Regions from separate parts of the Homo sapiens genome. Here region 2 is linked to region 1. The links come from fine-mapping of genetic effects on gene expression. A gene starts in region 1. The other region holds a variant in brackets. All regions are shown on one strand. Distances are between the middles of the regions. Region 1 holds the start of SLC25A40 (solute carrier family 25 member 40). Region 2 overlaps RUNDC3B (RUN domain containing 3B).

Evidence for each region.
Region 2: its variant is fine-mapped to the expression of SLC25A40 in whole blood (TOPMed, PIP above 0.99).

The regions. Positions count from the first base shown.
Region 1 is chr7:87,873,268-87,878,653 of GRCh38, reverse strand. It overlaps SLC25A40 (solute carrier family 25 member 40), which reads left to right and starts at 2,294. Exons shown (of 12, transcript NM_018843.4): 1 at 2,294-2,558. It overlaps DBF4 (DBF4-CDC7 kinase regulatory subunit), which reads right to left and starts at 2,161. Exons shown (of 12, transcript NM_006716.4): 1 at 1,876-2,161; 2 at 429-601. The coding sequence starts at 1,921. RefSeq lists enhancers at 1,882-2,001, 2,189-2,698 and silencers at 2,062-2,321, 2,452-2,901.
Region 2 is chr7:87,639,099-87,644,484 of GRCh38, reverse strand. The region is part of intron 1 of RUNDC3B (RUN domain containing 3B); the gene reads right to left. It also overlaps a transcript of ABCB1 not described here. Among named protein-coding and RNA genes, the nearest start is that of RUNDC3B, 13 kb to the right of the region's middle. The variant C/T (reference allele first, on the strand shown) is at 2,459.

The DNA.
Region 1 (5,386 bases):
CAACATCTGTATCACTCAGGAACAATTTTAACTGTGGTTTGCATGGCTGTTCTGTAGTAACATTCTTAACTGTTACACTAGTCCAGACAAACTTATGTAGCTCCCCAAGATTCATAATCAAGAAATTGCTGTTATCTGGAGGACATTCCAACATTACAGTAAGCAGTCAATGAGCAGTTCCACTAGGACAGGGGAGTCTTACACTCTAAGAACTTTACACTAGACTGCTAATCAGAGAAACCTGAAAGGTCTGTCAGTCCACAAAAGGTTAAAACAAATGGTTTTTTGTTAACGATAAACAGCTGATAAAAATGTTAAGCTTGGTGCTAATAGAAGCGTTTTCCAAAATGAAAAATTTAAATGATTACACAGTAGAAAGTACTAGTTACAAATTTTTCCTTCTATGCCAGTGTACGGTTTTCACTTACCCCTCCCAGATCCTTAATGTCCTTTTGAAGTTTTTCAGATATGGTGACAGAAGGTAAGTCAAGGTAAAATACTTTTCCCCAAAGTGGCTTACATTTGGATTTTTCTGGCCTGTTATCAGTTTTCAGAGATTTCAGAGATGGTCTGTTTTTTTCATTTTTGACTTGGATTCCACCTATTAAAGATGTTTAGAATCAGATGTTTTACACAGACACTTTTACTATTTTTAAAATATTTCATTATACAATATTACAGAATAAAAATCCTTACAACCCTACCAGTTTAAGTTATTAGCATTGAAATGTATTTCTTTGTAGTACTACTTAGGATAGAGGCAAAATGCCCTATATACTTTCACAGACCGCATATTGTAAAATAATAGTTGACTCAGCAAGAAATATTCGTGTGTTTATTCCTGAGGCACGGAACTATATAAAACTCTTTTGAAAGATTTTCTTTTTTTAGGATGTAAACTCCATGGGGATATTTAATACTCAACTATTTATTGAGCATCTGCCATTCTGCTGAACATTCAAAACTGGTGTTTAAACTTCATTTAGCGATGAAAGAATCCTCTGTTACGCAGAATAACCTAGTCCTCAAGGGTTTCAGACTGCTCAAGTTTTAGTTTCATATAAAGTTTGTCTGCATATTAACAACTAAACGGTCCATTTCACATACAATTTGTCTACGTATTAAGAACTTAACGGTCCATTACGAAGAACTAAACCTTTCATTATTTTCATTAGAAACAGATCTGAGATCCAAGCAACTGCTTTAAAAATTAATTTTTCAAACGCAATCTGTTCTTAAATTGGTAGTTACTACACACACACAAACACCTGTACAAAAAACTTAGGTGCTGGAATGTTTCACCAAATAAAGTGACTGAAAATGGAAATTTGCTTTTGTTTCCCTGTTTGTAATGTTGAAACCAGCAATGGGGTGTTTGAAATACAATGCTTTCCCCCAACTTATGAGGAAAGGAAAATAAACTTTCAAGGGTAAGACCAAAAATCCACCCACAATCACTCAATCTAATCCTGAAGCGAAAAGCCACGAGCGCGTCTGACTTTAAATTGAGGATGCAGTCCGTCGCCTCCAAGGGCCCGGGCGGAGGCTTAGCATATGCGAGAGCCCGGGAGCAGACAGCGCCGCAGTCCCGGCGAGGTCCCGGATCTGCACATTGTTTGCTAGTTTTCAACCGAAGGCACGACCGGGAATCAATCTGGGACCGCCGCTGTAAACGGCAGAGCGCTCGAGGGGCCGGGTCAGGATCCGTTCCTTCTTAGGCAAAACACTGAACGGGGGCTCCTTCCTTCAGACCCCAGAGGCCGGTCAGAAGAAAAGAAGCTGAGGACCCGGCGGGAGAAGTCTGAAGAATCAATGGTGGAACCACGAGGGGAGGAAAGGATTAAAGGGACTGCAGGCGGAGGAGGGGCTTCTTACCCTGGAAATGTCCTTTACTGTGGATCCTCATGGCTCCGGAGTTCATGGCAGTCGCCCGGCACCTACATGCTGGGTCCGGAGAAAGTGTCGCACCGGGCAGCCGCGAAAGCACGGCTTCCCCCGGCCTGTTGACAGGACGGCCGCCTCTCTCCTTCCGCCAGCTACGGCCTCTACGCAGTAGAGGTACCGCGTCTGCAGGTCGGGTTTCCGGGGCCGGATCCGGCTCCAAGGCGCGGAGGAGGAAGGCGCAAAGCACAAACGAGTGGGCTGCGGCGGTTGAAGATTTGAAAACGCGTCACGCGGCCGCGGCGCCGATACGCGCGCCCCGCCCCGTCTCACGCCACGCGCCGTGCCCCGCCTCGCGCTCGCCCCTCGTGCCTGCCTTCTCGCGCTGCGCGCCCCGCCCCCTCACGCCGCCGTCCTTCTCGCGCCTCGCTCTGGCCCTGCAGGTTGTGTTTCCGCCTCTACCCCGCCTCCATTCCGTTGCTCTCTCAGTCTCAGACCCGGGCTCTCGGTCCGCCGCTTCAGGTCTTGGCGCAGCCTCAGAGAGTTGGCGCGGCTCTGTGTTGACCAAACCTAGTGGATGCAGTTAGCGCCGGAGCCCGGCCCCGCCCGTCACCAGGGTTATTCCCGCCTTCTAGGTTTGCCAGGACTGCCGGCCCTGCAGCTGCCTTCTGCCCCAGGTATGCTAATTTTCCACTGGTCGGACGTCTGGGAAGCTGAAGGCGAGGGGCTTTGGCTGAGTCCGGACTCAGCTCTGGCCGGGCCCGGGGCCGGGGCCGGAACCGGAGCCGGACAGCGGCGGCAGCCGCAGCCCCTGCTCAGCGCGCCCTGGGTCGCACAGCAAGCGGGGTTTTCCCGCGGTCACTGCCGACCCCACCGGCTGAGGACAGCTGCAGAGGGACGTGCGGGAGTGAGGGCGGCCCCGGGGGGCGTCTGAGGGAGGGTCTGGCCAGGCGGCCCCGGCCTTGACGGCAGCGCCACCGCAGAACGCCTCCAGGTCACTTTGTGTCCTTGGGTAGTTGGCTATTTGCGCTGTCCTGTTGACTTTTATTGTATTCAGACCTGTTTTCTTTTAGTTGAGTGTAAGTTTATTTCAACAATGAAGGAGTGGAAAGTAACATCTCATTTTTTTTTCCTGTAAAACAGAGATTAAAGATCAAATTAAAATGCTTGTGAATATATTTTAATTTTATAAGTTGGAACATGCCTCTCCAAAAAAAAAAAAAAATCTGTTTCTTCAGGAGGAAGAGGATATTTTGAACTATTTTGCATTCCTCTACTCCAGGCCATAATAGGCACTCCTGTAGTGGTTGATTTTTTTACCTGGTAGCTCAAGGAAGTCAGAGTATCAGCGTTACGGTTTTGCAGGTAGGTACCTTAAAGAATAGACAAGGGTGGGTTGTGACAAGATTAGCTGGAGAACGCAGAGAACAGGTTTGCTAAGGGAAATGAGAGTTTGGTTTTAGACAGGTTTATGTTGAAGGGCCTGGGGCGACAGTCATGGAACTATGCTTATTAGACAGTTAAAGATGTTTATGACTCGAGAGAAATGTCTAGCAGAAGTGGACATGGGAAGAGGAAATAGAGATTGATTTGATATCTCTCCAATAAAATATTTCTGCATCAAGGTCTATTGATGTCAATCATGGGGCAATTCATTAGAGGTTAACAGATCTTGAGTGGTGGAAGGAAGTGTAGTTTGAACAAACATATTCAATATTGTAATTTCTATGGGAAAAAACTTATTTTCAAAATATAAGCTACAGAGAGCACAAAATGTTTATATTTACAGAAAGATTTAAAAAGTTGGGAAGCACTAATATAGAATGTAGTTAAAGCTTTGGGAGGAAATGAAATTGCCAAGGAGAGCATGTGAAATAAGAGAATTGATTATAAGCGTCGTTGATGAAATAGTGAAAGAGATGGAGAAAATGCCACAGAATTGGGAAGAGACTGCAAACATTGGAATCATATGGGCTTCACTAACTACTTGGCCTCTGGGTAATTTTGAGCCCCAATTTTAATCTATTAAAAGGGGGTAGTACTTCTCAGGGATGTTGTGAAGATTAAATGAACATTTTTGAATGCTTAGTACAGTGCCTGGCACAGAGTAGAGCTCCTTAAGAGCTCCATAATTACTATCATTCTAGTGAACACTGCACCAGTTCCTTCATCCCCAGGACAGATAAGGTTAAGACTTGAAAAATAAGTATTTGATTTTGGCGTTTCAGGTATCCTTGGTTTCCTTAAGGGTAATTTGAGTAGGTGGCAGAGATAAGTACAGTACTAGATAAAAATTATAATCTTGAAGTTCAGACAGGTTGAGTGTACTCTTTCAAAAAAATTTGTTATTGTAGGAAAGTATAATGAAGGGAAGACTGGATCTTTGGAAGGTTTAGAGGATGTGGGAAAGATTTTTAAGCATGCTTCTATTGAGGAACTTTTTTTTAAAAAAGGAAGTCCCATTTTATGGTCTTGTGAAAGATGAATTGTGTGTCTTATTTGCCGTGAAGAGGAAGGACAGTAACATAGTTGCACCCTATGCGGTTAGACTCACCCTCGACTGCACTGAAGATGGTAATTCCAAGCAATAAATAAGCAGGAAGTCCGCTTTATGCAATAGTTAGTAATTTTCTAATCTATTATCCAAGGTTAGTTTTTAAAATATTACTGGAACCTAAATCTGTTAGTAGCCACAGAAAGGATATGGCTGTAGTCAGTAAGGATAGAAACCTCCTTTTTATTGTCCAGTAATCAGGTCTGTTGGTAAGAGGGTAGGGTTTGTCTTAAAGTAGATCTTGAAAATATGCTTGAAAACATTTCTTCAGAGGAAGGGTAGACATTTAAGAAGAAGTGAATGGGGGCAGGGTTATTTATGGTGAGAAACTTTGTTCAAGAGTTATATTAGGCAAAATTGGAGAACATTGAGCAGAATCATGATCTAATTAAATGAATATGTGGCTGTGAATCAAGAGAAATGAATTTTATTCATTGCTGGCCCTGTCCCTAACTAGTTTTGTGACCATGGGCAAATGTTAACCTTTCTGGCTGGGCACGGTGGCTCAAGCCTATAATCCCAGCACTTTGGGAGGCCGAGGTGGCGGATCACGAGGTCAGAAGTTGGAGACCAGCCTGGCCAACATGGTGAAACTCTGGCTGTACTAACAATACAAAAATTAGCTGGGCATGGTGGTCCCCGCCTGTAACCCCAGCTACTCAGGAGGCTGAGGCAGGAGAATCACTTGAACCCAGAAGGCGGAGGTTGCAGTGAGCGGAAATTGCGCCACTGCACTCCAGCGTGGGCAACAGAGCGAGACTCCCTCTCAAAAAAAAAAAAAAAAAAAAAGTTAACCTTTCTATGCTAGAATTTACTTATCTATAAATGAAGATAATATTGTTCAGTCTACTCCACAACTTTTTGTGATTATCAGAGACCTAATCTGATCTTTCAGATTACCTCACACATACCCAAATATAAATTTTTTGTTCTAGAATCTAGACAAATTAA
Region 2 (5,386 bases), 230 kb after region 1:
AGTATCCAAAATATGAGACAGAGAACTCTCCACTATTTCAAACCAAATTTACAATATTCCTTATTATATGTCATTGCTGTTAGTAGTCTCTAACACAGGGGTGAGGTAATTATCCTCTGCCATTAAAATAACAGTCAGCATCAATGATCAACAAGGAGATGGCTTCCAAGAGACATGACACAATCCACACCAAACATAATATAAGCAGTGACTATAGGTGATAATAAGCACAATACCCAGAGATATCTGTTCACTGGAAGGCCTATTTTCTCTCTTATATTTTACATCAGAAACACAGAGAATTTTTCAGAATCAACAATTTGCAGGTCTGGGCACGGTGGCTCACGCCTGTAATCCCAACACTTTGGGAGGCCAAGGCGGGTGGATCACCTGAGGTCAGGAGTTTGAGACCAGCCTGGCCAACATGGTGAAACTCCATCTCTACTAAAAATATAAAAATTATCCAGGTATGGTGGCACACACTTGTAGTCCCAGCTACTCAGGAGGCTGAGGCAGGCGAATCACTTGAACCTGGGAGGAACAGGTTGCAGTGAGCCGAGATGGTGCCAGTGCACTCCAGCCTGGGTGAAAGAGCGGAAACAAACAAAAAAAGTAATTTCCCTTCTTTCTTCAAATATTATGCAACTTGCGAATTCTTGGCCGGGCGTGGTGGCTCACGCCTGTAATCCTAGCACTTTGGGAGGCTGAGGCAGGCAGATTGCCTGAGCTCAGGAGTTCGAGACTAGCCTGGGCAATATGGTGAAACCCTGTCTCTACTAAAATACAAAAAAAAAAAATCAGCTGAGCATGGCGGCATGCACCTGCAGTCCCAGCTACTCAGGAGGCTGAGGCAGGAAAATTGCTTGAACCTGGGAGGCAGAAGTTGCAGTAAGCCCAGATCATGCCACTGCACTCCAGCCTGGCAACAGAGCCAGACTCCCTGCCCCGCACCCACACACCCAAAAAAGAATTCTCAAACATCATGTGTATTTTCCTCTTTCTTTTCTAATATAATTTTAATCTATTTAAAATATTTTATAATGAGAAAAAATACCTTTCACATATCCTTTAAGCAGGGGTCTACAGACTGTTGTCCACAGGCCTAATACAACTAGTTAAATGTTTTTGTAAATAAACTTTTATTGGAACCAAAAAAAGTCCCAACCATCTTCCCTGAAATTTGTACCCTGAAACATGAAACTCTCTTCGTGATATTTTATTATCTCAAAAAATTTTACGCAATGTAAAAATCAACTTAAAAATAAAGGAAGAAAGCAGGGCCAGGTGTGGTGGCTCACACCTGTAATCCCAACACTTTGCAAAGCTGAAGCCACAGGATGGCTTGAGGTCAGGAGTTTGAGCAACAAAGCAAGAGCCCATCTCTATAAGGAAATGTAAAAATTAGTCAGGCATGGTGGAAAGAGGCTGTTATTTTAAGCAACTCAGAAGGCTGAGGCAAGAGGACAACTTGAGCCCAGGAATTCAAGGTTACAGTGGGCTATGGTCATGCGTCTACACTCCAGCCTGTGTAACAGAGCAAGACCCTGTCTCTAAAAAGGAAAATTTTAAAAATTAAATAAAGAGACAGATGTGTATTTAAAATATTTTCTCAATCTGTACTGTCAAAATTTATTTTAAAAGAGAATTGTTAATCTAGACACTTAAGAATGGAAATACTATATTATTAACATCTTGTATTGCTATATAAGCAGACTGATGACAGCAGATTGCCAAACATAAAAAATAACGTTAGAAGCACACTCTTAAAATAAAAAAGACAGTTTGCTGAGAATGATGGTTTCCAGCTTCATGCACATGTACCCTAGAACTTCAAGTATAATAAAATATATATGTTAAATAAATAAATAAATAAGGCAAAACTTTCCAAAAAGATTCATCTAAAATTAGTAAGCCATCAAACCAAGAAAACTTCCTATCTTAAAATACATTGGTTTAATCTCATATGAAAGAACTCCCAATTAAAATTATTTTAATAAAGAACACTTTATATACTTGGATCACATATCCCTTGGGAATCCAATTATTCTTTATCCAAGAACAAATGAAAATATTCAAATAGAATACTTTAACATAGTGAGCTTCCTAGTAAGCTAGACATTAAAAGCAGCAATAGAACAACGTGAAGAACAGAAAAAAACCATAACATATAGTCTTCATGGTTTATCAACACTAGAATGCTACGAAAATGAAAGGTCCCAGTTTCTGTCTATGCAAACACACACATCAGCTGACTTGTATCACAGACAATCAAGACAGCACAGTTTTAAAAATATATATATATGTTTTGAAACCAGATATATTTGGGTTTGAATTCTGGCAATGTTAGCCTTAACTATAAAATAAATCTAATTTAAATAAAAATTATTATAATTAAAATTTCCATTATTAGTGATGAAGGCTGAATCTAATATTTTTCCTGCAAAAAGCATATCGTCCA[C/T]GTATAAATTAAATATATTTTCTTATCATGTTAAGATACAGATGTTTTGTGATTGATTTATGAAAATTTTAAATTGTTATTAATATTAATTTTGAGATTAGACCTGAAATATAACAGAAGATTTGGTTCTGTAAATACTAAGATTTAAAAATCACAAAATCTAATGTTAAATATGAATCTTTGGAGGATATTGTTTTCCTAACCTCTTCTAAAGACAATCACCATCACTGGAGATAACAGACAATAAATCATTTTACTTAGCTAAAACAACAAAATGTGGGCATCATATCCACTTTCTTTCTTTCATAAAATATTTTCAAAACAATATGTATTTTGGAGGATTTGTTTTTGAATATGCAATCTAGTGTCAGAGTAAAAGAGGAAGGCAGGGAAGAAGAGCTCTTTCATTTAGTGCACATTCACAGCTGTCGGCCAGCTTTTGGTAAACAGTAGTTACTGTGATTGTTTACTGTCGCCCCCAAATCAGTGCATTTTGTTGTTTTGGCTTGCTGGAGGAAGGGTGCTAGAAAATATACCAAATCCAAGTTGAAAACCCTGAAAGGCCAGGAGCAAACTGTAGGTTGTTCAAGACTAACCATGGTTAAAACCTAGTCTGGATTCAGCACAGTCCCTGATTGGATGAAAGCAATCAGCTGCTACTCAATCTTATGGAGGAAGATGAACACTAGTAAAGCAAAGTGGTCATTAACCTACACTATTGGCCATGGGTACTAGTAAACTGTTGGCGATATCTTTCTAAAATTAAGTGGTGCATTCCATCTGTTTACTCCACTGTGGTCTATTTCTACTGTATACTATGTTCTTATGAATACTTTGACACAAAATGGTTGACAAAAGGGTAAACATGATAGTACTAAAAGAACAACAAAAGTATTAAAGAAATAACTTAATAAACATTGTGTGGCATTCAATAACATTCTAGATGTGACAAAAGATAGAACATACATGACAAAGAAAGGAGTAAGAGAGAAAAAGCAGACCATAAAAGTAGATATAAAGATAATTCAAAATTCTAAATTAATAAGAACTTTAAGATAAATGTGAGTAATACATTCAAGAGATGAGAAGAAATGAAGTACATAGGTAAAAAGACAGGTTTTTAAAATCAGAGGGTTAGAGTCTATTTTAAAAAATCAAATAAAAATTCTGGAACTACCTGAAATTAAAAACTCATTCAATGGATTAAACAGTAGAATAGACAAAGCATAAGACATAATTAATGAACTAGAAAAGGAGTCAATAGAAAACATACAAGCTGAAGCATAAAGAGAAAGAAGAATAGAAACCATGGGAAAGAATATGAATCAAGTGAGGCCTGGTAAAGTTTAACATAATGTAATTGGAGTGTAAAAAGATAATGGAGACACACGTGGTGGCTCATGCCTGTCATTCCAACACTTTTGGAGGCCCAGGCAGGAGGAATGCCTGAGGCCAGCAGTTTGAGACCACCCTGGGCAACATAGCCAGATCCTATATCTACAAATTAAAAAAAAAATTAGCTGGGTGTGGTGGTGCATGTCTGCAGTCCTAGCTACTCAGGAGGCTGAGGATCACTGGAACCCAGGAGTTCAGGGTTGCAGTGAGCTATGATCGCACTACTGCACTCCAGCCTGGGCAACACAGCAAGACCCAACCTCTAAAAAATAAAAATAAAAAGTAAAAAGAAGATAATAACCAAAATTTTTCCAAAACTGAGGAAGGTAAAATGGAAAGGGTAAATATGTGGATAAATATAAATGTGTATTTCCTAAATACCTACTGTAAAAAAATATGGTAATAAAATAATGTAAGATTTAATATATATATATATATACACATATATATATAAGTATGTTTTAGGATGTGGGGGAATAAATGGTTCTAACACTATTGGAGAAGTAGTAAAAGTTACAATTTGCATTAAGCTGTAATAAACCAAAGGTAACTGCCAAAAGAATAGAAATATATATAAACATATATAAAGAAATGGAATATATGACTCACAAGTTCACAAAGTAAAAAACTGGAATCATGGAATAAATGGAACTATAAAAATATTAATATTTAAGAAGGCAAGAAAAGAGAAAAAAGCAAACATACAATGAACAGTAAGATAGCTATAAATCCAAATATAATAGTAATAACGTTAATTAAAATGGGCTAAATAATTAAAAGACTAAGATTATCAGACTACATAAAATGCAAAATTCAATCCTATCTTACCTACAAGGACACTCTAAATATAAGAGCCCAGAAAGAGCAAAAGTAAAAGTAAAAGATGGAAAAAGAGACATCATATTAACATTAGCTAAAAGAAAGCTATTATAACTGTATTAGTAGCAGATAAAACAGACTTTAAGGCACTAGCATTATTAGAGATAATGAGGGACATTTCATGATGACAATGAATCAAACTACTAGGAAGAGACCACAATTCTAAATCTCCATAAAACTAGTAACAAAACAAAATATTTATAGTAAAAATCACAAAACTAAAAGGAGAAACAGACAAATCTACAGTCATAGAGGTAGACTTTAACACATCTCTCTCAATACTAAAGAGTATACAAAAAACAAGTAAGAATACAGAGGACATGAACAAGGCAATTAAAACACTAGACTTAACTGACATATATAAATCATGCAATCAACAATGACAGAATACACATTATTTCCAAATGCATATTAAATATATGTTGAAATTAACCATATACTGCATCATAAAGCATCAACAAATTTCAAAAGCTCAAAATCTTTCAGAATATGTTCTCTGCACAACAGAATTCATTCGAAATCAACAAATAAAAGGTTACTAAAAAACCTTCAACTGTTTGAAAGTTAGACAATAGATTTTTTTTTTTTTTTTTTTTTTTGAGACGGAGTCTCACTCTGTCGCCCAGGCTGGAGTGCAGTGGTGTGCCGTCTCTT